Linked DNA regions of Homo sapiens. The protein of the gene in region 3 interacts with the protein of the main gene of each other region in a biochemical or structural test. Each region holds a gene or a part of one and is shown on either strand. Other genes may lie near its edges. The genes, in order: PALLD, SYNJ1, SORBS2 and PTPN12.

The links.
Region 1: the proteins of SORBS2 (region 3) and PALLD form a complex in vitro, tested with the Homo sapiens proteins (one study listed by BioGRID).
Region 2: the proteins of SORBS2 (region 3) and SYNJ1 form a complex in vitro, tested with the Homo sapiens proteins (one study listed by IntAct).
Region 4: the proteins of SORBS2 (region 3) and PTPN12 form a complex in vitro, tested with the Homo sapiens proteins (one study listed by BioGRID).

What each region holds. Positions count from the first base shown.
Region 1 is NC_000004.12:168,892,045-168,899,069, forward strand, and holds part of PALLD (palladin), read left to right. Parts: intron 1-2,441; exon of another isoform or gene 2,442-2,534; coding exon 2,535-2,633; coding exon of another isoform or gene 2,634-2,721; intron 2,722-3,548; exon of another isoform or gene 3,549-3,708; intron 3,709-4,504; coding exon 4,505-4,555; intron 4,556-6,448; coding exon 6,449-6,670; intron 6,671-7,025. UniProt on the Homo sapiens protein: Cytoskeletal protein required for organization of normal actin cytoskeleton. Roles in establishing cell morphology, motility, cell adhesion and cell-extracellular matrix interactions in a variety of cell types.
Region 2 is NC_000021.9:32,724,995-32,732,932, forward strand, and holds the start of SYNJ1 (synaptojanin-1), read right to left. Parts: upstream 2,952-7,938; intron 2,946-2,951; exon of another isoform or gene 2,843-2,945; intron 1,924-2,842; coding exon of another isoform or gene 1,902-1,923; coding exon 1,778-1,901; intron 1-1,777. UniProt on the Homo sapiens protein: Phosphatase that acts on various phosphoinositides, including phosphatidylinositol 4-phosphate, phosphatidylinositol (4,5)-bisphosphate and phosphatidylinositol (3,4,5)-trisphosphate. Has a role in clathrin-mediated endocytosis.
Region 3 is NC_000004.12:185,809,192-185,816,121, reverse strand, and holds the start of SORBS2 (sorbin and SH3 domain-containing protein 2), read left to right. Parts: upstream 1-3,927; 5' UTR 3,928-4,458; intron 4,459-5,017; exon of another isoform or gene 5,018-5,184; intron 5,185-5,227; exon of another isoform or gene 5,228-5,374; intron 5,375-6,930. UniProt on the Homo sapiens protein: Adapter protein that plays a role in the assembling of signaling complexes, being a link between ABL kinases and actin cytoskeleton. Can form complex with ABL1 and CBL, thus promoting ubiquitination and degradation of ABL1.
Region 4 is NC_000007.14:77,596,272-77,603,296, forward strand, and holds part of PTPN12 (tyrosine-protein phosphatase non-receptor type 12), read left to right. Parts: intron 1-1,570; coding exon 1,571-1,630; intron 1,631-4,392; coding exon 4,393-4,535; intron 4,536-7,025. UniProt on the Homo sapiens protein: Dephosphorylates a range of proteins, and thereby regulates cellular signaling cascades. Dephosphorylates cellular tyrosine kinases, such as ERBB2 and PTK2B/PYK2, and thereby regulates signaling via ERBB2 and PTK2B/PYK2.

The DNA.
Region 1 (7,025 bases), about 17 Mb from region 3:
GGTAAAATATATAGATAAGATGTTTTCTCCACTGGATTTAAGTCTTTCCTCATCAGTTTTTGTTTGTTTTTTCATCTCTTTTGTTGATGCTATCCTTTTAAAATACTCTTTTCTTTTTAAAATACTATTTCCAGAATATTTTAAGGGGATGGGAAAAGCAAATCTAGAAAATAAGACTTACCAGGTAAAGGAGAGGAACCTTCTGTAGCTTTATTAAGGAATTGTCACTGGAAAAATTTGCCTGGCTCTTAAGTACAAGACAAGGATCTTTTTGTATAAAATCTCCCTTTCAGACACCTTTTTCAGAGTAGAAAGCTCTCTATAATTATGTTTTCTGAGAATTTTAATTATCAAACATTGATAAGTAAAACTGTGAGAACAGACCACACTTGAAAGCTGGAGAGCAGAGGAGGGGTGCTGAATGCTGATTTTAGTTTATTAGGGTATCTTAATCTGATTAAGAAAGATTAAAATTTCAATGAAGTTTTGTGTTAGTTACTCATTTCACTGAGTATAGAAGATTTTCACAAGAGGAAAATATTTTCTCCCTGAAATAAGTGATTGCATGTGTAAATGTACATACTCTGGAAGTTTTCCCTGGCTCTGTCAACTAAATCTTTTAAAAGATTAAAATAAATACATATGGGAACTTTTTCAAGCCAGGTAAGGCATCACTCCAGCTTTTTTTTTTTTCTTTTTGGCTGTCTATGTCAATGTTCCTTATGAACTAAGATTCTCTTGGTTAAGGTAAGACTTCCTTAAGCTATTGGTCAACCCACATTATATATATTGTATGTATATTTATATTCATCTGTTTAGCAGTGAATAACATTCACAGTAAGTTCCACAGGTATCCACACTTGAGAGCTTAAAATGACAAGTAAGGTTTCCCTTTTTAGAAAATGGGATTCTCAACCAACTTTTTCCTAATATTATATATCATTCTCTTTCTTATCTTTGGTGTCTGTAGACACGGGCTTTTATAGCCAGATGGCATAGTGACTTAGAAAAAAAACTGTGAAGTATATTTGGCTTCTAGTGGTAGCAGGTGCATTCTGGTGAAGGAATAGATATGAAATTGATATTTCTGCTTATAAGGAACAGAGTGAAAATCACTCCAGGCCTGCCTTTGATGTGTTACAATTCTCCGTGAAAAGATTAGGGAAGCTTTTTAAGAGATCAGGTATTTAAGACTCTCTTTGAAAATTGAATTCACTGATTTTTTAATAGGTGTGAGAAAATTAATTTAATAACATAGTGGACTCAGATGCTTCATGCCGCCCTCAGACTCCTACCTCTGCCTCTTCTTGTCCTCTGACCTTTCTTTATTAAGTGAAATAATTTGAACTGCAGGACTATTTGTCATTTGGCACTTGACTTGTTTCACTTCCCGGTTTCAGCTGGGATTGAGATCAGCAATTACTGGAAATTGTAAATTTACCCAACATATTTTCCTGATTAGAGAGCTTCCAATCAAATTTGCATTTATATTTAGAAGTTTGGAAGTTTATCTGAAATAATTTCTGTACATTTTTTAGATTCTGCCTTACCAATTATTCTCTATTTCTAATCAAACACTTGCTTATAAAATGCTCCCGATGAGGCAGGTGGTATCTGAAAGTTCCTTCCAAACCTGTAAGTCTAAGGCACTTTAGAATGAGTATTCAAGAGCAGGTATCACCCCAACAGTCACACAAAAATGCCGGCATTTCTTATGTATAAGAATGGCATAGGTAAAACGGTTTGGGCCAATTCCAAAGTGCTAGCTGCGAGATGCAAGAACACTACCACTTTCTTTGCCTGATGGGCAAGCAGTCTGCTTCTGGGTCAAGTCAATTGAGGCTGTTAGCTTTGGCAAGTGTCTTGTGTAATCCTGTTGCTAATTCAGCCATGTGCATCATTCTCTGTGGATTATAATAGTTGCCGCCAATCCCCTACATTACACAGCAGCCTGGGAAATGCTCTTAGAGGTAAGAACCCCATCACTGCCAGCTCATCCACATCTTCCTTTAGCTAAACATTTACTGAGCACATACTGTTAAATGACTGATAGAATTATTTCCATTAGCGATACCTGTTCTTTTTTTAGTCAGTTTATTCTCCTTTTGAGTATCTTTGTTTTTTCTTTCAGTCAGTATTAGAGCTGACTTGGGTGTTCTGAAGCTGATGGATGGCTATAAAAATAACATTTCTTTTAAATTGTATTTTGCTGTTTAAATATCTTTTTTTCCATGTTTTTCATTAAGGACATGACAAATCTTTTCTGTGTGGTTTCTTCCTTGTCGCTTATTGCTCACTTTAAATTTGTGCTGTACCAATTGGTGGCTCTCTGGATTAGGCCATTAGTACTAGAAAGGGAGGTAAAAAGGTAGAACAACTGAAGCAAGAAAAAGAAATATGCAGGTATCTGAAGCTGGAGAGAGAACACTTACAGAAAATCATGAAAGTGTGTTGTTTTTTACTCTTTTTCATAGGGCAGTACATATTTGTGATTTTTTTCTAATTTTGTATTTTTTGTGACTTACGTTGTTTAGAGGTTAACATACGAAGAAAGAATGGCTCGTCGACTGCTAGGTGCTGACAGTGCAACTGTCTTTAATATTCAGGAGCCAGAAGAGGAAACAGCTAATCAGGTACCATGTTGCTCTGGACTTCTTAGGGTAACATTTATTCTGTCCCCCTTTTCCATCTTCCTTATGGATACTGTTCTTGGGATGAGTTCTGTGGAAAGTAGAGGGCAAGTCACAGAAAAGCAGTATTAATATCATCAGTCAACCTCACAGCTAATTTTTATTGAGCACATACTATGTTAAGTGACTGACAGAATTCTTTCCATCAGTGATACCTGTTCTTTTTATTCTTCTTCTTGATTATTCTCCTTTCCAGTACATTTCCATTTTCCTATCCTAAGTTTTATGCAAAATAATTTTGTGTGGAGAAACACATTTTCGCCGACATTGTCTGAAATAACTAGTGAATATTTCCCATTAGAGTTGGACCTTGAACAACACGGGAGTTAGGGGGACCAACCCCAAGCACAGTTAAAAACCCACATATGGCCGGGCACAGTGGCTCATGCCTGTAATTGTAGCACTTTGGGAGGCTGAGGTGGGTGGATCACGAGGTCAGGAGATCGAGACCATCGTGGCCAACATGGTGAAACCCCGTCTCTACTAAAAATACAAAAATTAGCCAGGTGTGGTGACGCACACCTGTAGTCCCAGCTACTCGGGAAGCTGAGGCAGGAGAATTGCTTGAACCCGGGAGGTGGAGGTTGCAGTGAGCTGAGGTTGTACCACTGCACTCCAGCCTGGCAGCAGAGTGAGACTTCGTCTCCAAAACAAAACAAAACTAAAAACACATATACGACTTTTGACTCTTCAAAAACTTAACTAACAGCCTACTGTTGACCAGAAGCCTTACTGATAACAAAGAGTTGATTAACACGTATTCTGTATGTTATATGTATTATAGACTGTAGTCTTAAAGTAAGCTAGAGAAAAGAAAATGTTACAAAGAACATCTTAAGGAATAGAAGATACATTTACAATTCATTAAGTGGAAGTGGGTCATCATAAAGGTCTTCATCCTCATTGTCTTAAATTAGAGTGGTCTGAAGAGAAGAAGACAAGGGGTTGGTCTTGCTTATCTCAGGGGTTGCAGAAGCGGAAGAAAATCCATATATAAGTGGACCCATGCAGTTCAAACCTGTGTTGTTCAAAGATCAACTGTTTAGTCTTAATATCTAGTCAAAATAAAATAGAAAATATTATCTCTTTATCTTCTTTCACATATATACAGATGTTCTTCAACTTAGTATGGGGTTATGTCCTGATAAACTCATTATAAGTTGAAAATATTGTAAGTTGAAAGTGCATTTAAGGCGGGGCGCAGTGGCTTACGCCTGTGATCCCAGCACTTTGGGAGGCCAAGACCGGGTGGATTACCTGAGGTCAGGAGTTCAAGACCAGCCTGACCAACATGGTGAAACCCCGTCTCTACTGAAAATACAAAAATTAGCCGGGTGTGGTGGCGTGCGCCTGTAGTCCCAGCTACGCGGGAGGCTGAGACATGAGAATCGCTTGAACCCAGGAGACAGAGGTTACAGTGAGCCAAGATCGTGCCACTGCACTCCAGCCAGGTGACAGAGCGAGACTCCATCTCAAAAAAAAAAAAAAAAGTGCATTTAATACACCTAACCTACTGAACATCTTAGGTTAGCCTAGTCTATCTTAAATGTGCTCACAACACTTACATTAGCTTACAGTTGGGCAAAATCATCTAACACAAAGCCTATTTAAAATAAAGTATTGAATATCTCATGTGATTTATGGAGTCCTGTACCAAAAGTGAGAAGCAGAATGGTTGTGTGAGTACTCACAGCACCGTTACTACCAAACGCATATTGCTAGCACAAAAGTTTCACTTAAGGAAAATTAGAAATCTTGCTGCATTCTTATTATTTCTATTATTAGTCTTCACATCTTTTTTTCTACCATTACAGGACATTGGTTCTCCTCATGCTTCTGTAGGGAGTCCTCTGGATGGTCAAAAGGTTAAGCTTTTCACCTTTCTTCTCCTTCCAGTCTTTCTCTGTGTCTGTTTTCTTCTGTTCTTCCTGTTTTACGTGTGTTTCTATCTTTTCTGCCATATATTAATTATAAATGCTATGACCAGTGTCTGTTTCATTTAATATCAGATACACAAAATTACTGCAACATGAGTTTTCTTGTCATGTATTTACCAGCTTGAATTTATTTATTTATTTTTACTTTATGTATTTATTTATTTATTTATTTATTTTGAGATGGAGTTTCGCTCTTGTTGCCCAGGCTGGAGTGCAATGGTGTGATCTTGGCTCACTGCAACCTCTGTCTCCTGGGTTCAAGCGATTCTCCTGCCTCAGCCTCCCAAGTAGCTGGGATTACAAGTGCATGCCAACATGCCTGGCTAATTTTGTATTTTTAGCAGAGATGGGGTTTCACCATGTTGGTCAGGCTGGTCTCGAACTTCTGACCTCAGGTGATCCACCCGCCTTGGCTTCCCAAAGCGCTGGGAATACGGCATGAGCCACAGTGCCTGGCCTCTGACTTGAATTTAATTCTGTCATTAGTGGATACTCTGAACATTAAATCAAGAAAAATTTTTCATTTGTTATATATACCTTTCTATGGGGAACAAAAGTGCTAATTCTTCAAGGGATTAATTTGATAGTAATTAGATGAAGCAAAACAACTTGTGGTATAACTCTTGCAGTTTTATTCATACTGTTGTATTTCTTCCCTCAAACCAACAAACTTGTTTTTTAAACACTGAGTAACTTCTTTAAGAGAAAACATAGTTAAAGTTATCTTTCATTTAATATTAAATAGGGAATATTTACATAGACTCCCTTGTCTTCATTGCACTTTTTTGTTTTGGAGACAGGGTCTCACTCTTTTGCCCAGGCTTGAGTGCAGTGGCACAATCACGGCCCACTGCAGCCTCGACTTCCCAGGCTCAAGTGATCCTCCCACCTCAGCCTCCCAAGTAGCTGGGACAACAGGCATGTACCACCATGCCCAGCTACTGTTCTTTTTAAATTTTTTGTAGAGATGGGGTCTCACTTTGTTGCCCAAGCTGGTCTCAAACTCCTGGCCAGAAGCAATCCTCCCACCTCGGCCTTCCAAAGTGTTGGGAATTACAGGCATGAGCCACTGTACCTGGCCTTTAATGCACTTTGTAGGCAAGGAAATTGTAGGATCCACCGTAATCACCACAGGAATGTTGATGGGTTGTTTTTTTTTTTTAAAGCAAAATTTTGGCTAGACTGTCAGTCCTATTTTTTCTTCTAAAGATGGTGGGTTCCTAACAGCTGCAGAGCTGAGGAGGCGGCCCTTGCAAGGCAGGGATTGTTAGAGGTGGGGGAAAAAAAACAAACATTTTTTTTTTTCTATTATTCTTTTACTATTTTTTCTATTACCATTTTTTCTAGTACCATTTTTTCTATTATTCTTTTACTATAATTGTATATAATATGGCAGCTGCTTGCCACATGTACTATGTGGAGAGATGTACCACCCTGCATCAGCTTTTACCCTACAGAAGGAAATCAGCGTTCCATTATATTTTATTGTTATCAACAGTTTAGGAATACATAGCTTTGCTTTTGCCTTTTTCTTTCCTTCCCCTTGTTTCCCCTCGCCTCAGAGAAAAGAAGGAAAAAAAAATTCATCTTTCCTACCCCCCTCTTTTTGGATGATAGGACTTGAAGACAATCTGAAATACCACATAAACTCACTTCCAGATGTTTTTTGTTTCATATGCAATTGAATTGGGCTCAGACTGTGTTTTTAAGCTGTATGGTAAAAATATCACTGTCTTCTAGGGCCTTATTGGGGGGCAGGGAGAGACGTGACACTTTGTCAGAAGGGATTGAGTCTGCTAACTTAAACTTTCCTTGATTCAGGAATACAAAGTCTCCAGCTGTGAACAGAGACTCATCAGTGAAATAGAGTACAGGCTAGAAAGGTCTCCTGTGGATGAATCAGGTGATGAAGTTCAGTATGGAGATGTGCCTGTGGAAAATGGAATGGCACCATTCTTTGAGATGAAGCTGAAACATTACAAGATCTTTGAGGGAATGCCAGTAACTTTCACATGTAGAGTGGCTGGAAATCCAAAGCCAAAGGTGAGCTGGGAGATGGAGGCTTTTTAAGAGTCATTCTCTGAGGAAAGGTTTAGCTTCCAAAACATAGCATGCCAGTAGGAGAAAGAGATACAAATGATCTTTCTCAATACCCACGATATAAAGGGTTTTAAATATTCTTAAGTTCTGGGCCATCTTCAGGAGGCATTAGAAACCAAAAAAGGTGGTGGGGGGAGTGGAGTTTGGGTTTGAAGAATAGAGAATAACTAACAGGGAGCTCTTCACACACCTATATCATTTATTCCTCGTTGTTATTCCCAAATCACAAATAACTAAACTGAGTTCTGTGAAGTGAGTTTCCAAGGTCAGAGAGCTGGTGAGTGGCCAGGCCTGCATA
Region 2 (7,938 bases), on a different chromosome or scaffold from region 3:
TTTTAGGGCCTTTTGGTAAAAACAAACCATTATTTGGCATAAAAGACGGCTGCTGGAGGTTTTGGAAATATTATTATTCTTAGGTTTCCTAACCTTGGAGTAAAGTGTAGCAATAATTCTAAAAACTATAAGTAATACACAGTTTGTAGCTGAACATTTGACTTGCTATTATGAGTAATCATAATTAAAGAAACATTTAGAATTTATACAAGATTAGTAAGTCAGGTAACGTCACCAAAAAACACAAGCAGCTGAAAAATGCTTCCCATACAAAAACAAACATTCGCCCCACCCAACCCCCACAATATTTTAATTCAGAATTCATCAGTATAAGAATTCCACTTGTAGTAAAAAATATATGCAATGGAAATTAATACTGTACCAAGGTATAGTTTAAATACAAAAAACAACTTGAAGCAATTAAGTCCATACTGATTGAGTATAGCCAATATTATTTATACTTATTTCTTGGAAGACCTAGAGCCCCTTCTCCTTCATTCAAAAAATATATGTACCAAATATATATTTCTTATATACTGTTCTTTGCTTAAGACTTTTCATTATGTCACTATCTTTTTCCCCATCAAGATGCAATTATACTATTTAGTCAAGTTAACACTTTAACTGACATTAATATTCTACATGCAAAGAGTGAGGTCTTATGCTCTTCATTTATTGAGGCTGGAGAAAGCTTAGTAGTTTAAGATATTTAAGGGCTTATATTTGTAAGTATGCCTTTCAAACACTATTTTTAATTTATAAAGATATAATCAGTAACTAAACTAATCCCAACACTAGGATTATTTGCCTAAATCATATATATGTGTATATATAATCATATACTTTTTTTTCTTTTTAATTTTTGAAACAGGGTCTCACTGTGTTGCCCAAGCTGGAGCGCAGTGGCGAGATCAAGGCTCACTGCAGTCTCGACCTTCCAGACTCAATCAATCCGCCCACCTCAGCCTCCCAAGTAGCGGGGACTAAAGGGCACACGACGGAGCCGAACTACTTTTTGTATTTTTTGTACAGAAAGGGTTTCACCACGCTGCCCAGACTGGTCTCAAACTCCCCGCCTCAAGCGATCAGCCCCCCTTGGCCTCCCAAAGTGCTGGGACTACAGGCGTGAGCCCCCACACCTGGCATATCTTACATTAAGAAAGACCCAGTATCCAAATTAATTTTAATTTCATCCATCTGCCCCTAAAATAACTCAAACATTACTAATCTATTTTTCTTGTGGTACAATAGTCCTTTTCTTTAAATTAGACTATCAAAATACTTTTAAAAATAATACAAAATCAATCATGTATCTCACATGAAAATCTAGAGGTTGTTTACAATTCCCTTAATGAAAACACAACGGCCATAACAGAAATACTCCAACAATATTGGATAATATTAGATAATACCTACTACTATAACTGACCTACCAGTAAATATGTCAAGCAAGACACTGTATGGGTTTATGTGATACATGATACAAACTGAAACAATATTTCTTTGGAAAAAACATTTACTTTTAGAAGCAGCAGCAGAACCCAAGAAAGCAAAATCCTGCAACCAAAACCTGCATCTCCCTGCACCCCCTCAACAAAAACCTGTTAACAAAAAGTTTGCAGGAAAATAAGTTTGATTAAAAGGAAATACAAGCATAATCTGCTAGAGGAAATACAGTGAAAGGGTTGTCGGGCTCTTTTCTAAAAAATGGTTGCATCTGAATTGTTTCAAATCAAAACAGAGACCATGACAAATTGGGCTCTAACAGATGACTTACAGAGCACAGCGACAGCCCCAGACTCGAACATGAGACATTCTTCCTTATGCCTAGTTTCCACTATGAGGCTGAAAGGTGGGGGATCCAATTTGTGATAGATCCGGAATCCTTTACTGAACGCCATTCTCCTTTCTTCGGAGGCAGCCCTGCGAAAACCAAGCAAAGCAAAGCAAATGAAGCTGATGTTTCCTTCTGCAGCAAGGACTGCAAAGCATCCAAAAGTCCCTCCCCGCCAGGTTTTGATGGGGGGTTGGGGTGGGAAAAAACAGACAGCTCTGGGAGAAAATGGCTTTTTCCAAAAGATAAGTCGTCACTTAATTTTACCAAAAAGCAAGAGGAAAAGCTATCAATTCTCATACCAAGGCAAGACAAGGTTTTAGCACTGTAAGTCAATCAACGGTCTGGTTGAGTTTCCCGTTTAATTTATGCTTACTGAAAGGAAAAATTTTGAGCGTATTTCGTCCGGAGCTGTTTATCAGCTTCCTGCTTCAAGATCTGTCACTACGTTGAAAGGGAACCTATTTGGAAACTTCAAGCAGTTCCTTCGAGGTGAAAGGAGCGGAGGTGGGAGGGAAGGGTGACAAGGCTGGTTCAAAGCTCCTTAGGGGGCAGGAGAAGGAAAAGGATTATCCCACGCGACAGGCTCTCCCGGGGGTGGCGATGAAGGGCAAGGGAAAAGGCACAGGTTACCGCCGCCTCTCCTGCCCCGGGCTACCGCCGGCTGGGGGGACGGCAGGCGGGGCCGATAAATACGAATGGCCACCCGGGAAGAGTCACGACTCGGGGCACCGACCCGACTGGGGCTCCTCGGGGGTCCCGGGCAGTCGACTGCCCGGGAAAGCGGCTCCTTCTCGGAGAGACGGAAGAGCCGAGCAGCCCAAACCCTCCATTTATGCGCCAGAAGAGATACCCCGGCGCCCAGGCGGATTCGGTTCGTTCCCGCGGGCGGGCTGACAGCCGCTGTCACCACAGCCCCCAGCCTGACGCGGCACCCCGCACAACCAGTGGTCTGCTCACAACCCCGCCCGTCCTCCCGCACCCCGGCTGCTCGCGGTCGCCCCTCACCGCTCCCGCTGACGCTGCGGAGGCAGAGACTGGTCTTGGAGGCGTCCGCCCGCCCGGCTGCCCGTGGGTCTGGCCGCAGCAGCTCCCCGCCCCCCGCCGGCTTGCTCACCTCTTCCTCCGGCTCCTCCTCCTCCTTCTCCCGCAGCCGCCGCCACAGCCGCCGGGAGCGTCACTTCCGCTCCAGCAGGCCCATCTCTTCCGCATTGCGCCGCGGCCGGGGGCGGAAGATCCGCCCCGCGCGAGGGAAGGGGCGGGGCATCAGGAGGGAGACCACGCCCACTCTGCGCCGACCGGCTGGGCCTGGCACCCGCGGGCGGCCCCAGCCTCAGTCTCCAGCTACCTTTGCCTCCTGCGGCCGCCCCCAGGCAGAGCTGCGATCCCACCGCCGGGGGTGCAGGGAGAGGGAAGATCTGGCCTCCTTGGTCCTTTTGCGTGGGCTCTTCAGAGCGTGAGCGCCGGGGAGGGACTCCGGAGAAAAGCTTGGGGGGCTGCGTATTGCTGCTCCCCAAGCTGGGCGTCAGGACCAACCCCGCCGCCCCCACGGGCCTGACGGGAGAGGAGGAAGGGCTCGGGACGGTCGGCTCGCCGAGCCAACCAGGTGGCGCCTGAAGAGCTGTCCATGGTGTCGACAGCCCAGCAAACGGCACCGAGTTCCTAGTCTGAGTGTCTGGATAGGTAGCAGAAGAAAAACTAATGCCTGCTCTGGGACAGTTCTGTTCGGTGCCTTTTCTTGTGTGTTCTGGAGCTCACAGGGTTCTATCGAAGAGTGCTTAGGTGTATACGATGGAGAGTGGGACGTCACAAACCAGGATCTCAAGGCTGAGTCCAACAAAACATGGCCGTAGGGAGGCCACGACAGCTGTGGTTGTCACCGACGGATGAATAGCTTTTGCCAACCGTGGAATTTAGTAACTAAAGGCACCTAACCCTTTTATCTCATCCTCATTTTTCAACAAATGGTGCTTCCTGGCTAATATCAGCGTGTCCCATAGATTTCTGCTTCCATTGAATAGACCTAATAAGAAAGAGAATGAAGTCAAAGCCAACAGGGCAGAAAGAAATTGAAAACCTGAAGAACCCAGCACTCAAACTGTCTCCACTTGCGTTTGCTTTTTCTTTACCTCTTCTCCTTCTGGTTTTCAACAGCCAAAGCAGGATTTAAATTTGGTTATGTTGCAAAAATCATTTCCCTCTTCAGGCCCTGTCATGTGACTTGATTTTTTCGTCCATTTTAGAGAAGCTGTACCCACCCTGGTTTCAGGACACGGAACTAAATTTATTAGAAAAGAAGCCACTTCAAGTCATGAAGGAGAAACACAAAGATTCTTGGATTTAGTTCTAAGAACTAGAGGGGATTTCTATGTCAGTACTGTCTCAGAAAAAACTGTTGATATCAAATGTGTTGCTTGAGAAGTACCTTTTTTTTTTTGAGACGGAGTCTCGCTCTGTCCGCCCAGGCTAGAGTGCAGTGGCGCGATCTCGGCTCACTGCAAGCTCCGCCTCCCGGGTTCACGCCGTTCTCCTGCCTCAGCCTCCCGAGTAGCTGGGATTACAGGTGCCCACCACCACGCCCGGCTAATTTTTGTATTTTTAGTAGAGACAGGGTTTCACCGTGTTAGCCAGGATGGTCTCGATCTCCTGACCTCGTGATCCACCCGCCTCGGCCTCCCAAAGTGCTGGGATAACAGGCGTGAGCCATCGCGCCCGGCCGAGAGGTACCTTTTATGACAACTGAAATCATTCAGTTTCAAGAGGAGTTGGGTACTGAAACCAAACTTGCTTACTCCAAAGCCCAAAATCCTTTCCACCATGCCTGTGTGTCTGTAAGGCTACACTAGAAATGCTTCCTTTCTTATAGTGGGAAGCATGGGTACTAAGCTCTTTTACGAACAAGTGTTCTGCATATTCCTGGTTCCTTTTTATTTTGGACTGAGGAGATTTAGGTCAAAATTTCTGGGTTCTGGGTTGGAATTCCAGCTTCTTTCTTCAAATTAAACTGGGGGGTAGCAAGACTTATTCCTAGATTTGTTAGAAGGCCACAGCTTTTCCACATCTCATTTTAGTCATGAAAAAGACACATGCCCAGAGTTTGAAAAACATAAAGGCAATTTGACTAGTGGCTTGATTGGTTCTATCTTCTTTTTCTTGTCCCTCTTTCCTATTTATACTTCTACTTTTGTTACAGCATTTGACAATAGTTGGAAAAATTTTCACTGACCTTGAAATGTCTTTGGGATAGGGTGACTTAAAATATAGGTTAAGTGGCATACACAAACTTCTTAGTGAGATCCTAAGGGCCTACAGAGACAGGCTGACACCAACTCAACCCTTGAAACTGTGCAATGAAGAGCCTGTGGGAGGCTAAAAAACGCTACTTCAAAAAGAGATCCTTGTCTGTGAATGTTAATTTAGGTTTACAGATTTGATTAAGGGTCTTGAGATTATTTTCAATTATCCAGGTGGGCCCTAGAGCCCTAGATGCAATCATAAGTGTCCTTATAACAGGGAGGCAGAGGAAAATTAAACACGCACACAGGAGAGAGAGAGAGAGAAAAAAAAGTGATGTGAAGACAGCAGCAGAGATTGGAGCGATGTGGCCATAGCCAAGCTATGTCAGCAGCCATCAGAAGTTGGAAGAGGCAAGGAAGGATTTGAGCCTAGAGCCTTTGGAAGGAGCATGGCCCTGTTGGTTCTGGCCTCCAGAACTGCAAGAAAATACATTTTTGTTGTTTTAAACCACCCAGTTCATGGTAATTTGTAACACCAGCTACAAGAAATTAACACAAGGCTGATGTGACTTTCCATCAGGAGAGAGACAGCCCCAGGTAGGTGTTTCAGATATCACATCCAATAGAACAAATTAAAGACAAACACCCTAAATTCTAGATGTTGATTTGTGAGCAAGTTATTTCTCCTATGGGCAACTCTAGTTGAAATATGCAATTCATTATGTTGAAACATGGAATTGTTATTTTCATAGGTTAAAAAAAAATCACATAGTGGCAATATAGTAGTAGTGCTCGTTTTTTGTTTTTTGTTTTTTTGTCAAAAATGCTAGACAACATGGAAGATCAGGGAAATATTAACAGTCTGATTCAGTAACCTTTAACAGCTTCTTTTCAGGTTACACAGGCTAAGCTAACTTTTATATCAGGATCAGGATCTGCAGAGTTATTAGTATAGTGCTCTGCAGATCCTGGTCCTAGTATAGCAGGATCTGCAGACCCTAGTTGTACCTGGCCATGTTCCCCACCAATGACTGAGAAAGAAATGGCTCGAACAGAAAACAGTGGTCTTGAAAGGCAACGCAACAGTAGGTTACAAATAGCATTAGCTTTTTCTTTAAAGAAATTCATTGTAACCAGTGAAGGATAAGATTTTAAATTAGAAAAATGGAAATCCTATGAATAAAAAACTAGTAAGCTTGAGAGCAGAATCACTGTGGAAAAAAAACAGATTGAAAAATAACTTGCAGGTATCATAGACAGGAAATTGCCACTAGAGAAAACAGGAAACTTGTGATAGATAAAAATGAAGTATTTTCATTTGGAACAAGAGACCAACTGAAGAGAGATCAAGTGAAGGGGGTTTATTTTAATGAAACACAAAGATTCTTGTGGAAATCAAAGTGCCGGAGCCAGAAACAGGGCTCAACCTTCAAGATTAGAGCTGTATTCAAGTTGTTCAAGTTGGCTCTCGGTCCCAAAGCAACAGCAATGTCACTAAGGTTACAAGTAAAAGGTAAGCTTTCATGATCAAAATGTTTTTGCAAAGTAGCTTAAAATGGTTTCTGCAGTGTTTTGTCAAAACTTTTCTCATACATTTTCCTAAAGATATTTAGCAAGAGCCTAAGAAGTCATGTGCTAGGGATTTTCATTGTACTGAATGATTGTATCCTTTAAGCCGCTGCTGGAGTTAGGACTGACAGGAACGCAGTACAAATTACTGGGGGCTAGAGTCCCAAAGCAGGCCAGGGACCAGTCTACATTGCATGTCGATACCAATCCCATATAACAATATTCAGCCTGTGTTTGGGCAGTCTGAGGCAGCTTTTAGCAGCTGTGAACCCAGTATCCATGGACAGTTTCATTTCTGGAGGGCAGTCTTCAAAACGTTTATGAAAGTACACCTCCCATTCAGATATGTTTTTTTCTTCCTACATGTAGTGCTAGTGTTTTTCTCATTTTCATTTACTTGAAACAACAGATCAAATGTTTTGTCATAATCAGTGAATGGCAAGACTCCCTTTATTACATGGGTATTACCATGTTAGAGATAAGAAGAGCTCTTGTAACCATTAACAACCACTACAATGTAGCAACTTACAGTTTCCTATTTTATATTGCAGCTCTGTAACATTTGACTACTTTTGTAAGAGTTTCATGATTTCAAGGATGATTATTAGCATTTTCAATTTTTTGGCCAATTCTGGGTGCTGGTAATGTTACCACTGCAGGCAACTATGGCTCTACTCAACTGAAGACCTCTTATAGGCAATGTGGACCATACCTGCTTTCCTGAGAGATCAGCAAATTGGGTTTGGTCATCAGGAAATTCTGTCTCTCAGATCTCATACTAGCAAGGAGACCCCTGGTTGTACCTGTCAGAGCTGCCAGTTGGCCCTGCTGAAACTTTAGAACTGCACCAATGTCTAAGACTTTCATCCTCCTTCCTTCACACAGGTGAGACCTGCCTGCCTCATTGTCTGACAGCTTTCCCAGCCTCCTCCAGGCTCCCCTCCGTTTTCTCTTATACGCATTCCCCCAATAAACTTCCTGTACATTTAATACCATCTCAGTGTCTGCTCCCAGGAGGACCCTAACTGACACACTGGGGCATTTAGCCTCCAATTCCTTTTCTCCCTTGGCTGAGATCTGTTCCAGGAAGTATCTCCAGGACACTCCAGCCTGTTGCACAGGCCAAAGAAAAGCCCTCAGGCAGAGGAGCAAATACTTGCAAGAGGACACCAGTGGCAAGAACAGGGACATGGTGAGACTTCGACATCATTGGCTACAGTAGTACTAGTCACTCTTGACTGTGGTTTATGTTGTTTCAATAAAGTAGCTTTCCTTCTCAAAAACATTTGTCACCTATTT
Region 3 (6,930 bases):
AATAGCAAACTTGTTTCAAGAAAGTGCAAAATGTTTCCAATACTCTCTACCAGAGTAGCCTCCTCAGAGTAACAGTAATGGTAGTAATCACTTTAGTTACTCCATAACTTATTAACTTCTTTAGTTTCAACTCTGATAAATAGTTATGTCTTCATCAACTAATCTTAACCTTAACTCTGTGTCTATTCTAAACACTATTTTTATTCTCATTTTATTTCATTTTTTAAAACTTTGTATCTTGAAAACAAATCAAACTTATAGAAAAGTGCAAAGAATAGTAAAATAAACTGAAAATATTCTCATTTAAGATTCATCAGGTGTTAGCATTTTGCACATTTGTGTTTGCCTTCCATAGATGATACACAGATGATAGATAGGTAGATTGATTGATGTGTAGGTGTGCATACGGTATAACTTAAAATAGAAGCTAGATAGATAGATAGCTCTCTCTCTCTCTCCATATATATGTGTGTGCGTATACTATTAGAGCATATATATGTGTGTGTATATGTATTCTTTGATGATAATATATTTGTTTGAAAATCCTTCTAAACAAATATTTGTCTTAGAAAATCATATTATGGTGTGGTATTCTACGCTTTCATACTGAACATAATTTCTGAATGGAGATTTTCACACACATTCTGTATTTTCATTTCATAATAAAAACCAAAACAACTAGCAGTGTGAATTATAGGGTTCCCTTTATATGTTAGTGGATATCTTAATAACCTTTAATAATATAACAAATTTAATTATAATGTTTAAATATATATAAAAAATACCTTTATGACCACGTTGTTTAAAATTCCACACTAAGACAACAATCTCAATAGAGAAAACAGGCAAAAGCTATGAACAGAAAATTTACAGAAGAGGGAACCCTGAAAACCATCAACAATGAAAAGATGTTCAATTTGTCAGTAATTAGAGAAACACACATTCAAACAATAATGGGCCATTACTCTGCACCTATTATATTAGCAAAATTTTAAAACTAGATAATGCCAAGTGTCCTTGTCATAGCTGATTGGACCAAGGCACAGGGCAGCCCATGTATAAAGCTGCTGGCCACATAGGTGGTATCTCACTTGACTCAGAAAGATGGGCTGGAAAAATCAGATTTGTCTCTTGGAAATCTGTATCTAGCACATTTTAAAACAAACACGTTTGGAAGGAGAATAAACGTCAGGGACCTGGGCTAGGGCAGGGCCTGAGGTCAGAGCAATGCCAATGGGCCTCAGTGCACCAAGTTACAAGGGAGGGGCTTCGAGCAGGCGAAGGAGCCAAGAGCCTTGGAAGAACAGACTGGCAGCAGAGTGATGTGTGAAGGCCAGTAGAGATGCCGGGAGACGTGCCACGGGGCAAAGAGGGGAAAGGGATTCATCTCAGTTCCTGCCAGCTTCCCAGTTCCGGTTCAGTGCAAACTGGGGGACTTCCAGTTCTCTTTGGAGGAGCAGGAATTGGAGGTATAGGGGAGGAGGAGATACAAGAAGAAGGATGAAGGCCTTTGAAATTCCAAAGGAAAATGACTTCAGATATTTGTTTGTTTGTTTGTTTGTTTGTTTTGCTACTAAAAACAGAGACAGAGTCTCCCTCTGTTGCCAAGCTGGAATGCAGTCATGTGATCACAGCTCACTGCAGCCTCGACCTCCCAGGCTCAAACATTCCTCCTTCCTCAGCCTCCCGAGTAGCTGGGACCACAGGCGTGCACCACCATGCCTGGCTAATTGTTTGTTTGTTTGATTTTTTTTTTTTTTGTAGAGATGCAGTCTGTTGCCTAGACTGGTCTCAAATCCTGGGCTCAAGTGATCCACCTGCCTCAGCCTCCCAAAGTGCTGGGAATAAAGGTGTGAGCCACGGCCAGAGATTCTTATGCCTTGCCAACCAATCAATCAAGTGTGAGGGTATAAAGACATTTTCAGAGATACAATGAAAAGAAAAGCCACCCTAAAACATCAAGTGCACCTAGAGTTTTCTTGATATCCTTTTGTAACATGCCAGCATTTTGTCAAAATCACTGAAGTTCTTCTGAAGTGATGAGTCAACAAATGTGTGATGTTGAAAAGTAAATTAAAACACAGATTTCACACCAGCCAGTCATCAGTCCCTATTCATACAGTGTCGTAGGTCCTCATTTAGAGGCATTGAGAAATTAGAATATTCCAAGCATGGAGGGCAAAGAAGACATGGACCAGATTGGCTTCCAGAGAGTTGATAGAACAGTCTGGGAGTCAGACATAAAAGGAGAACTGCTAAGAAGTCCCAGGGCGTGACAAGGCCTGTAATAGCAGAGGTGGACCCCGGTACAGGGGAGTCGCAGAAGAGGTCGCTCAGACCCCACCTGGGAGAGTCATGAGTGAGGTGGTCCATTTGGGCCAGGTGTTGGAAGATAAAAGAGGAGGCAGATTGGGATGGAGGTTAAAGGTGCTGGGGCGAGGAGCAGTCAGATTGAGAAGGTTTTTAATAGTAGCAGCATCTGCAGGGCAAGGAAATGGTGTGTAATGCAGGATTCTGAAACGTGGGCAGTGAATAGTAGAATGGGAGGCTGAGGGCGAAGGCAGGGGCACGCTCAGCAACAGCAAATGCAAAATAACTTCAGGGAAGGGAACTTCAGTGAGAAAAGGTAGGCTGGCTGGAGGCGATCTGAAGCGGTGAGGACTCTCCCAAGCAGGAAAGCGCCACCCACTTGTCCTCCATGGATACGCTGACCCTGGGTGGCTCAGACCTACCTAATGTGAATCCGGTTGGGGAGGAAGGGGAGCGGGCATCCCCAAATCTACATCCACAGGATTCCTATGCAGTCAAAATTTGGGAATTAATACTGAAGGCAGGAGTGTTAACATGGGTAGGGAAACGCAATACTGACGGAATCCTAAATCAATGACTACTTAGCAAATAGAACATCTATATTTACAAGTCCAAAGTGTTAACATAACTATTTGAAACAGATTGCTAGAAACAAAAATAAATGGGACAGTGCCTTGGAAATATATCAGATAGAATATGACTGGTGATAGAGTCCTGAAAAAGAAGAAAAGCCTGGGGGTTCTGCAGAAGATTTACGTTGTTCATGGCATTAATCATGGTAGATTCCCAGAGGAGGTGAAATGTTATGGACGGGTGGAATGTGATCCATTTTACTGAGGAAGTAAAACTATTCTTGCCTTGAAGGTAATGTTTAAAGTCAAAGAATTTTTAATTAGGTGCGGATTTTTTAAAAAGAATTTTTAATTTACAAATAAGATTGAGTTAAAGAATCATTTTCTGCCGTAGAAGCAATAGGATTTTTTAAAAATTCTATTTTAAATTGCATAAAAAGCATCTTAAAGTAATCAGATAAGTTGAGCCATAAGTAAATGGATATTTAAAGATCTTATTAAAATAGTCTACCTGATTTAGTTATTATTCTGACCCTATATAGCAATTCACAGGGTTTTGTTTCAATTAAGTGGCTCTAAGATTATCATTTAAAAACAAAAAGTGTAACTCTCCCGTTTGCAGCTCTCTGCACTCATTCTATGACTGGAAGGTGGGGCTTGTTTTGACAATGCTTCCAGTTAGGGTCTCTTAAGTGATTTGCATGTTATTAACCTGGATAGCCACTAATAGGGCTTCACTTCCTCGATTTCATACATAGCCCCGGCTCATATAAAAAAGAGTTCTTCAGGAGAGCAGAAAAATCGGAGCACTTGCACTATCGGTGAAATGTGTAGAAAGATAACAGAAGCTACCCTCCTCAAAAAAATGATGAGTTTGATGAAAAGAAATTAACAAGCTGTGTGAGTGTGCTGCACATGATCAGCCATGCTTGCTAAGTCTGTCTGTTGGTTGTTGCTATGGCTACGAAAAGCCAGTGGAACCCAATGAGCTGTCTGCAGCAGAGCTGAGAGGACCAGCCATTTTACTTATGGAAAACAGTGTGGCATATTCTGCTGAGCTTCGCCCTGGAAGAAGCCTCTTTTATACATCTCTTCAGGGAAGAGAGAAGCAATGGGCATGTTAGTATACAATGATCACAGCCACGCAGGCCTGCAAGCTGCCTTTTGGACAGGCTGTTGACTGCCGTTCCAATTAGCTGATTGGAGAATGTGGAATGCAGAGTGATAATGCTGCATATCTGCTATCAGGCAGCAGCAAAGGTTTTTGTCTTGGGAAGGCAAGCTTTCCCTGCAATATTATCTCAGCAGCTCCCTAGCTGCTTACCCTGAAAACGAGGGATCCAAACGGAGGGTGTTGCACTCTGCTAACGCTGGTCCTGTGCGTGGCTGTGGCATATGAGCGGCAGGTCTGAAAAAGCAGGTGTGTGCTGGGACGGGCACTGGACTGGAACGCAGGCGGACGCTCTCGGGTTTACCTGCTTCCTGTTAACAGATTGTGGGCTCCCAGGGCATATGTCTGCACGCTGAGGCCGAGGCGGAGAAGGGGCTTCCTGAGCGTCCCAGTACACTGACAGAGGTAAGCTTTTTTGACCTTTTTGAAAGCACAGCATAAAAATAACTGGGGCAAAACTTAGCCTGAAAGATTTACGTTGATTGTGTGATTTGGATTTACCAAACAAACATACACAGACACATACACACACGCATACACACACATTTCTAGAAAATAGTATCAGAGACATAGAGTTGTTTCAGTGAATTTTGGTTCTAGCAATTGGAAGATAAAAAACATGACCGATATGCTTTGGGGTTTTAAAACCAATATTTACTGTTTGAGCAGACTACGATGGCTTGTTCTGAACCGTCCTCACAGCCAACAACATTTCTCGCTTGTGAACAATGGATTCTTTCGTGACCTGCACTTTGACTTGTATTCAGAGAACTACATGAAAAAGAACTACATGAGAAGCATTTCTTTTTAAGCCTCGTAAATGATTTATTTAACTCTTAACACAGCTATGTACACACTTAAATTGAAGAATTCTGTTCTCTATGTGGGTCATAATAGCCAGTGGATTTTGTACTTGCTTACCCTGGACTGAGTGTCTTGGTGTCCTGTTTGATTTAGTTGGGGTAGTTGTAAAGCAAACAGTGTAGGTATTGGAAGCCGTTCACACCTCCTTTCCGAGTATCTGCATGCCTTGCTGGCCCAGAGCACAAGACCCCCATTGTGCTCCCCCGGCTCAGAATCCAAGGAAAGAAAGGAAGCGAAGCCTCTGCATTGAGTTCTAGGACAGCTGAGGTATGTGGCAGTAAAACTTCTTTTCTTGCACAATTTTTCTCACAAGCAGATAGGTTTCAGAGATAAAGAGTGAAACCAAAAACACCGCACACCTCATCCAAATCTGCGCTCATACTTGCAGCAAATGTTTGCTGTCAGTTGCTTCATAATAACAGCACAGACCCCGAATTGCAGGAGGAATTGCCTGGTAGTGAGTATTTCCTTGATTTATAGTCTCTTAGGAACAAAGCTGTTACTGTGGATTGAAACTGGTCAGTCAAATCAAAATCCCTGGTAAGAAAATGACGGAGTAAGGATTAGATTCTGGTTCAGCAACATTTCAGCTTTACTCAAGTCAGTTCTTTGGTTGTTTTGTTACCAAAAATGTCAGATCACTTATAATACTATTGAAAATATTTAATAAAAATGTTTGGTCAAAAACTTTGAACAAAACCCCTATCTACAAAAGATGGAATCTACTGTGAAATTTAAAATAAGTAGTAACTGAGATCTACTTCTAAGAAGTATATTTTTATTTGCTACCTTTTTCCTCCAAAATCTGGATGACATGAGTCTCTTCAGAATTTTAAGTATAATTTTCACTGATAGATATGGGCAGGAACCGCCTGTTTCAGAGATGTAGCAATGTTCATAAGCCCTAAGATAAGAGAATGCTAAAGCAGTAGGAGAATAGTTTTCCAAACTTTTGTTCTAAATGTCAAAATAGTCAAAATATAAAGATAGAGACTAAGAATCTCAGTGGAGCCAAACATGTGCAAACGTTTGGTGATAAGTGTACGCCTATGCGGGTTGTAGGGGATAAAATGGTGAGGTGACGGCCTTGTACTTCATTATGTTTAACATTCAAAGGAAAGCTAAATGAACAGACTTAGTTCTGAGTCCAATTCTATGAGCAAAAATATCAGCTAAGTAAGGGATTCTATATGAGCTGAATGAAAGGTAGAGAAAATCTCTCTCCAATTTAATTTCCTTCAAAGCTTTACACTGCCAAAGGATTTCTTAGAATTGACACAGTGCAAAGACCTGCAGCAAGCACCTGATTTCCTATTAATTTTTCTTGGGGGAGCTTTTAGAAGAATGAGGTGTAGAAATATCCAGGGCACACCCGACTGCTGTGCCTGTTGCATTGATAGTGGCACCAAGTGAGACAAGACCCTTAGCCCACGGGAGGAATGGCACACACTTTATACCTGTGCAAGTTCTTTCCTATTTTAGTAACCTTTTAAGATGACATGCTATACACAGATGACCATTTTAAGTTCAATTCTGTACAGCGCATCTCCATAGTTAATAATTCAACAATTTTGAGAACCAGGTTCAGAGACATAATCTCTATCCTTCAAGACTTTGCACTTTCGCTTATGGCTATTTTTAGACCCTTATTTTCTGCCACTTTCCAACTCTTCTGCTGGCAATATCAAATATTTTGGAATTTCCAAAACATACTATATCAGATTTTTTTTTTTTTTTTTTTTTTTTTTTGCAAATGCAGTGCCCCCTGAAGAGTCATTTCCTTTAAATCTCCCCTGCAAGGACAGCTGCTTTCATACGCCCTTCAAGTCCAGCTAGACATCCCCCCTCACTGTCCCCCACCCTGCTTGGCTACATCTGAATCTTACTTCTGACTTTCTGTCTGCTGAACCATATTGCATTTGTCCCTGTTCACAGCCTTCCAGAGCTTTGCTGGCCTCTGATTCTAAAGTACTTTGTCCAGTGTCCAGAATTTTGCATTCAGACATTGTACTG
Region 4 (7,025 bases), on a different chromosome or scaffold from region 3:
CAAGTTTCTTAGTTTAGTAGGTAACTTGATTCCCAAATTCACTTCTCTTATTTGTACATATTGTTTGGGTCTATCTGTTAGGAGACTTTATCTGATAGGAGACTTCATTTTAAGGTTTTTAAAAAAATTTTTTTTTTAGTGTTTTTTGTTTTGAGACAGGGTCTCACTGTGTCACCCAGACTGGAATGCAGCGACGTGATCGCAGCTCACTATATAGCCTTGGCCTCACTGCTGGGCTTAGTGATCCACCTACCTCAGCCTCCCAAGTAGCTGAGAGCACAGGCTTACGCCTCAATGTCCAGCTAGTTTTTGTATTTTTTTGTAGAGACAGGGTTCTGCTATATTGTTCAGGCTGGTCTTGAACCCCTAGGCTAAAGCGATCCGTCCACCTCAGCCTCTCAAACTACTGGCATTACAGGTGTGAGCCACTGCCTAACTTTTTCAAGACTATTTTTTTTAGAGCAGTTTTAGGTTTACAGCAAAATTGAGAGGAAGGTACAGAGATTTCTTATATACACCCTGTCCCCACACATGTAGCCCTCATTATCAACATTCCCTACCAGAGCAGTCTCTTTGTTACAATTCACAAACCTACATTGACAAGTCATTATCACCAAGAGTTCACATTTTACATTAGGGTTCATTCTTGGTGCTATACATTCTGTGGGTTTGAAGAAATATATGATGACGTGTATCCACCATTGTGGTATCATACAGAATAGTGTCATTGCTCTAAAAGTCCTGTGCTCCACCTATTCATTCATCTCACCCCCTTCCCAACCCTAGGTAGTCATTATTTTTACTGTCTCCATAGTTTTGCCTTTTTCAGAAGTCATATAGTTTGTTTTTGTTTGTTTGTTTGTTTGTTTTGAGACGGAGTCTTGCTCTGTCGCCCAGGCTGGAGTGCGGTGGCACTATCTCAGCTCACTATAACCTCTGCCTCCTGGGTTCAAGCAATTCTACTGCCTCAACCTCCTGAGTAGCTGGGATTACAGGTGCGCGCCACCACACACAGCTAAGTTTTGTATTTTCGTAGAGATGGGGTTTTACCATGTTGGCCAGGCTGGTCTCGAACTCCTGACCTCAAGTGATCCACCTGCCTCAGCCTCCTGAAGTGCTGGAATTACAGGCATGAGCCACTGCTCCCAGCTCAGAAGTCATATAGTTTGAATCATACAGTATGTAGCCTTTTCAGATTGGCTTATTTCACTTAGTAATGTGCATTTAGGGTTCATCCATGTCTTTTCATGGCTTACTAGCTCTTTTTTTCCTTTTATTATTTTTAATTGACACATAGTATCTATACTTATTAATGGGGTACATGTGATTTTGGTACATGTATGTGTAATTTAAAATGTGGAGTGACTAAATCAGGATAATTAGCATGTCTATCACTTCAAACATTTCAAATGTTTGATGACTTTTAGAATTTTTTTATAATTATCAGGTACATCTGGAATTTTAAAGATTAATTTTATATTGTGGACTTTGATACAAGTATTTTATTTGTTTTGATGTGTCTTTTTGTTTTAACGTTTTCACTGACTTAGAAATGTTTCTCTTTATTTAGGAGGATGAACAAGCAAGAACAGACTACTTCATCAGGACACTCTTACTTGAATTTCAAAATGTAGGTACTTACCATTTATAGACTATCTGTAAGAATAGTTTTCAGGCTGGGTGCAGTGGCTCATGCCTGTAATCCCAACACTTTGGGAGGCTGAAGTGGGAGGGTGACTTGAGTCCAGGGGTTCAAGACTAGCCTGGGCAACATAGTGAGATCTTGTGTCTACAAAAAGAAAAAAGTTAGCCGGGCATGGTGGCATGTGCCCATAGTCCCACTCACTCAGAAGGCTGAGCCCGGGAGGTTGAGGCTGCAGTGAGCCATGATTGTGCCACTGCACTCCAGCCTGGGCAACAGAGGGAGACTCTCAAAAATGGTTTTGAGAATAGAGAATAGTTTTCAAAGAGAAGACATAGAGAGGGAGGGGAGCGTGGGCTGAAAAACCACCTATTGGGTAGTATGCTCACTCCTTTGGTAAGGATCATTTGTATTCCAGACCTCAGCATTATACAATACACCCATGTAAGCTGCACATGTACCCCTTAATCCAAAATAAAAGTTGAGGCCAGGTATGGTGGCTCACTCCTGTAATCCCCAACACTTTGGGTGGCTGAGGTGGGTTGGTCACTTGAGGCCAGGAGTTCAAGACCAGCCTGGCCAACACGGCGAAGCCCCATCTCTACTAAAAAATACTAAAATTAGCTGGGCATGGTGGTGCACACCTATAATCCCAGCTACTCAGGAGGCTGAGGCACTTGAATTGCTTGAGCCTGGGAGACAGAGGTTGCAATAAGCCGAGATGGTGCCACTGCACTCTAGCCTGGGCAACAGAGCAAGACTCTGTCTCAAAAAATAAAATAAAAAATAAAATAAATGTTTTAAAAATAGAAAATATAATACTACTACCTAAATGTTTTATTTGGTAAAATGGGTTTGCTAGAAAATTATTTTGCTTTATATCTGCAAAATGCAAATAATATATATAATATATATTATTATTTTGCTTTATATCTGCTTTATAGTTTTTTGTAAGTAAAAAAAGTAACAGCAATTTTTATTTTTAAAGCATGTGAAGTTAGTTTTTGTCTTTGCAAACTAATCAACTTTTAGCTACTAAAAAAATAAAACAAGCTATATAAATAGTATACTATGTTATTTAACATAATTAATGAAATTTGGTAATTTTTTAGTTACGAAGATGAAATGAGAGTGTAATATTTAGTCTTGACATTTATGCTTATCACATTACATAAAAAGTAATATTAATTATAACATACCCTAAATTTGTTAAATTTGGAATAGTTATACCTTCTTTGCAGCAAATATTTTTATTCTATTGCAGTAAGCAGGTTATTGCATTGTTTATATAATTATTACCCTGTTTTACTGGTTTACAATTTGTTAAAGAAAAGTCACTATCAAAGCTAAGTCTTCATTTAGATATATATTGTTTTTAGTTGAAACCCCCCACAGCGCCCCGACTTTTTTTTTTTTTTTTTTGGCAACAGGGTCTCACTATATATTGCCCAGGCTGGACTCAAACTCCTGAGCTCAAGCAGTCCTCCCATCTCCACCTTCCTAGTATCTGAGACTATAGGGATGAGCCACCAAACCCAGCTAAATTTTTTATAGTTTATAGAGATGAAGTCTTGCCATGTTGCTCAGGCTGCTGTCAAATTCCTGGCCTTGAGTGATCTTGCCTTTTGCATTGGCCACCCAAAGTGTTGGGATTACAGATGTGAGCCACTGAATCTGGACTGGTTGCTAATTTTTTAATCTACGGTAATAATAATAAGTACCTTAATGAATTTCTGTGGTAGATCAGGCATCTTAATTCTGCTAACTGCATCATATCCAGATACTGTTACGTCTGTTGCACATAGATGAAGATACAGAAGCTTTAAGAAGTTAAATAGCTTACCTGAAGTTATTTAGGAAATGGCCAAAGTAGGAATTTGAGTATGGTTTGCTTAGATTCCGAGTATTGCTCTTTCTGTTAAACACCTGCAATAACCATTCTCAAAACATTTGACATCAGTACTCCTTTACATTCTTCAAAGTTATTGAGGATCCCAAAGTTTTTGTTTCTGGGGGTTGTATCTTTCAGTATATACTATATTTGAAATTAAAACTGAGAAATTTTTAAAAAACATGAATACATAAGCATATATTGTATTGGCTGTTAAAGAATAAGGCACGTAACATTTTAGTATTATTCTGAGAATTATTTAAAGCTCATAGACTCCCTCAAAAGGGTTGAGGGGAGGGGGTACCCAGACCGTATATTGAGAACCACTAATCTGTAAGAAGACTAGTGAGTTTGGCATTGGACAAATTCATCTCTCCATTCTTTTTCAGTTTAATGTTCTGTTAGTCTTCTGATTACAATGAATACTACTCTAACCTACTCTAACATGGTGCTTACGGTATATTGCTCATCCATTTAATAGTGTAGATTAGTTAAATAGTATATATAGTGTTATGTTTACAGTACATGCTCTGGAAGTAGAACTGCCTGGTTTAGAGCCCACACTTGTCACTTCTTAGGAAAGTTTGGGCAAGTTATTTTATCTGTATATCTCAGTTATAAAATGAGGATGGTATTAACAGTACTTTCCTCATGGAAATTAAATTGTTACATGTGAAGCCCTTAGGTATTTGGCATGTGTTTAACAGTCAATAAGTGTTGGCTATTATTTATTTGGGTTTTTTTAAAAGCAGTGCTAAATGCCACACAAATTTCTTAGAAATGGCAGTTTAAATGAGCTGTGCAACTTTAAACTTTGCAAAGTATTTTCATAATTGTTGACTTTCTGTTTTTCTTGAAGGAATCTCGTAGGCTGTATCAGTTTCATTATGTGAACTGGCCAGACCATGATGTTCCTTCATCATTTGATTCTATTCTGGACATGATAAGCTTAATGAGGAAATATCAAGAACATGAAGATGTTCCTATTTGTATTCATTGCAGGTACAAAAGAATTTCCCAAGTTTATAAATACATTATTTAAGTTTGATGTTACACAAGGTTTTATTTCTGCATTAATATGTTAGTAATCTTGAATTTCTCCTAGCCTTGATACAATGTTTGGGACTAGGGCCTTGTAAGTTGATGTGGTCTCATTTGGTTGACAGACCGTTTAGAGTATTGTTGCATTAAAACACAGGATCATCTATTTGAAAATAGTATTCACATGGTGGGAAGCTATAGAACATACTCTTTTTACTGTTCACTGATTAGAGCATATAATCTCAGATCCTCATCATACTCTACTTTCTAAAGTCAGTATGGTAGTATTTTCTTTTAATCAATTTCCCTGAAACAATGACCAAGCAATTTTCATTCCTGATAAACACTGACATGAGATTTTTAAAAACAGGATATTGCTCTGATGCCCAGGTTGGAGTGCAGTGGCACAATCATAGCTTACTGTAAACTCAAACTCCTGGCCTGACGTGATCCTTCTGCCTCAGCTTCCCAAGTAGCTAGGACTACAGGCATGTGCTACCACACTGAACTAATTTTTTTTAATTAAAAAAAATTTTTTTTAAGAGACCAAGTCTTGCTCTGTTGCCCAGGCTGATCCGAACTCCTGTCCTCAAGTGATTCTCCCACTTTGCTCTCCCAGAGTCTTGGGCTTACAGGCGTGAGCCACTACGCCTGGCAACATGACTTTCTTTTTTTAATATATGTAAGATGTACATACGTAGGTCTTATTGATCTAAGATATCATCAATTCTAAGACACACCATTATTATATATATTAACAGTAAAAAAATCACTGCCAATTATAAGGGGACAATGTCATTTGTAAGAAGCCATTGGTGGTAAGATACATACCAATCTCAGAGCTGTTACATTGAGATGAAAAAGTGTGTTTTAGTTTGATGAAAAACTAAATGCTGTTTTTATTCTTGGGGAACATCAGTTTCCACGTTTGCACCACTTCCTGTCATATCATGAAATTTTATAATTTATAGCTACTGAAAAATTTAAAGCCGGAAGCAAGCATTCTTGTAGTAAAGTAATAAAAACTATTGATACACATTTACTAGACATTTTTATTATGTTTTATAGTAGATTACTTCATTATAAGGATTACATAAAATTCAATGATTACTGACCTAGTTAAGCTACCTCTGAATGTGAAAGGACAAGTATAGGTGCACCTACTTTAAATTGCACAATATAAATCTTTTCATTTATTCAAATAATATTTGAAGTTCAGTTAGGTTTTGCAAAATTACTCGTTTGGATGTGTTAAGAAATCATGTAAACTCTTCCTTTGACTTTGGGGGAATGAACATGAGATTTGTTTATTCTTGGGGGGCAGTTAATTTTGTATTCTAGAAGGGGGGTTAATGTATAATATATTTTAGCTAAGAGAAATCAGTTTAAGATAACCAACTTTTCTTAATCTAACATTTTGGCTTATTTCTGTCATCTGGTCATTCTCATACAAATAATACAAAGCTAAATATACATAATACATATGCACATATATGTATATGTATACATTATATGTAATACATAAAACAAAGCTAAATTTGTATTATGGATTTAGGAGTGTAATGGAAAATACCCCTTTAAGAGGAAAAGCACAAAACTGAATTAGTCAAGAAAATAATAAATGTTTGCAATAAGTGTCATGACCGGGTATAGTGGCTCAGTGCTTTGGGAGGCCGAGGCAGGATGATTGCTTGAGCCCAGAACTTTGAGGCTGCAGTAGACACCAATTACACTACTGCACTCCAGCCTGGGTGACATAGTAGACCCTATCTTTTAAAAAAAAAAAAAGAATATAGGTATCATTATAATATGGGTGATACAGGATATTTTGAAACCTAATTTTTGGAATTTCATTATATAGGTATGGGTTTCTACATAGTAGAAGCTACTTGAATCCTTAGACAGTTTTTCTACTCTGAATTTTTAGTTTACATTAGATTCTTCTAAAGGCCTTACAGTCATAGTACTTACTTCATAAGACTGCTATCAATTTATTCCTCTAAGGGACTTGTTATCTGCATTCACATTTGTTATAAAAAGTAAATGAGATTTTTCAAACTTAAGAGATTTATTTTTTATTATTTACATAGTTAAAATATTTTTTCAGTGGAGTTGAAGCATTGAAGATAGTTTTCTTATTCACTTGGTTTGACCGTAATGCTCATAATTAACGAAGTAAAAGGGCTACTTTTTATTCATGGGCCAGGAAAGTAACTTGCTGGTGGAGATGTGGGAATCAGTTAACAACTTGGTTCATTAAAACTATTTTTTTCTGTGGTTAATTCAGTGGTTAGTTGACCATTTAATTAAGTAGGATTGACCAGTTAAAAATAAACAATATGTTTAATTATAGAATTAAAAGATAAAGAAATTGCTTTCACTTTGACTTCTTATAAGTTAGTTAAAATAATTTCCTGTTCAATCATAAATCCATTTGTATAGGAAGGCTTT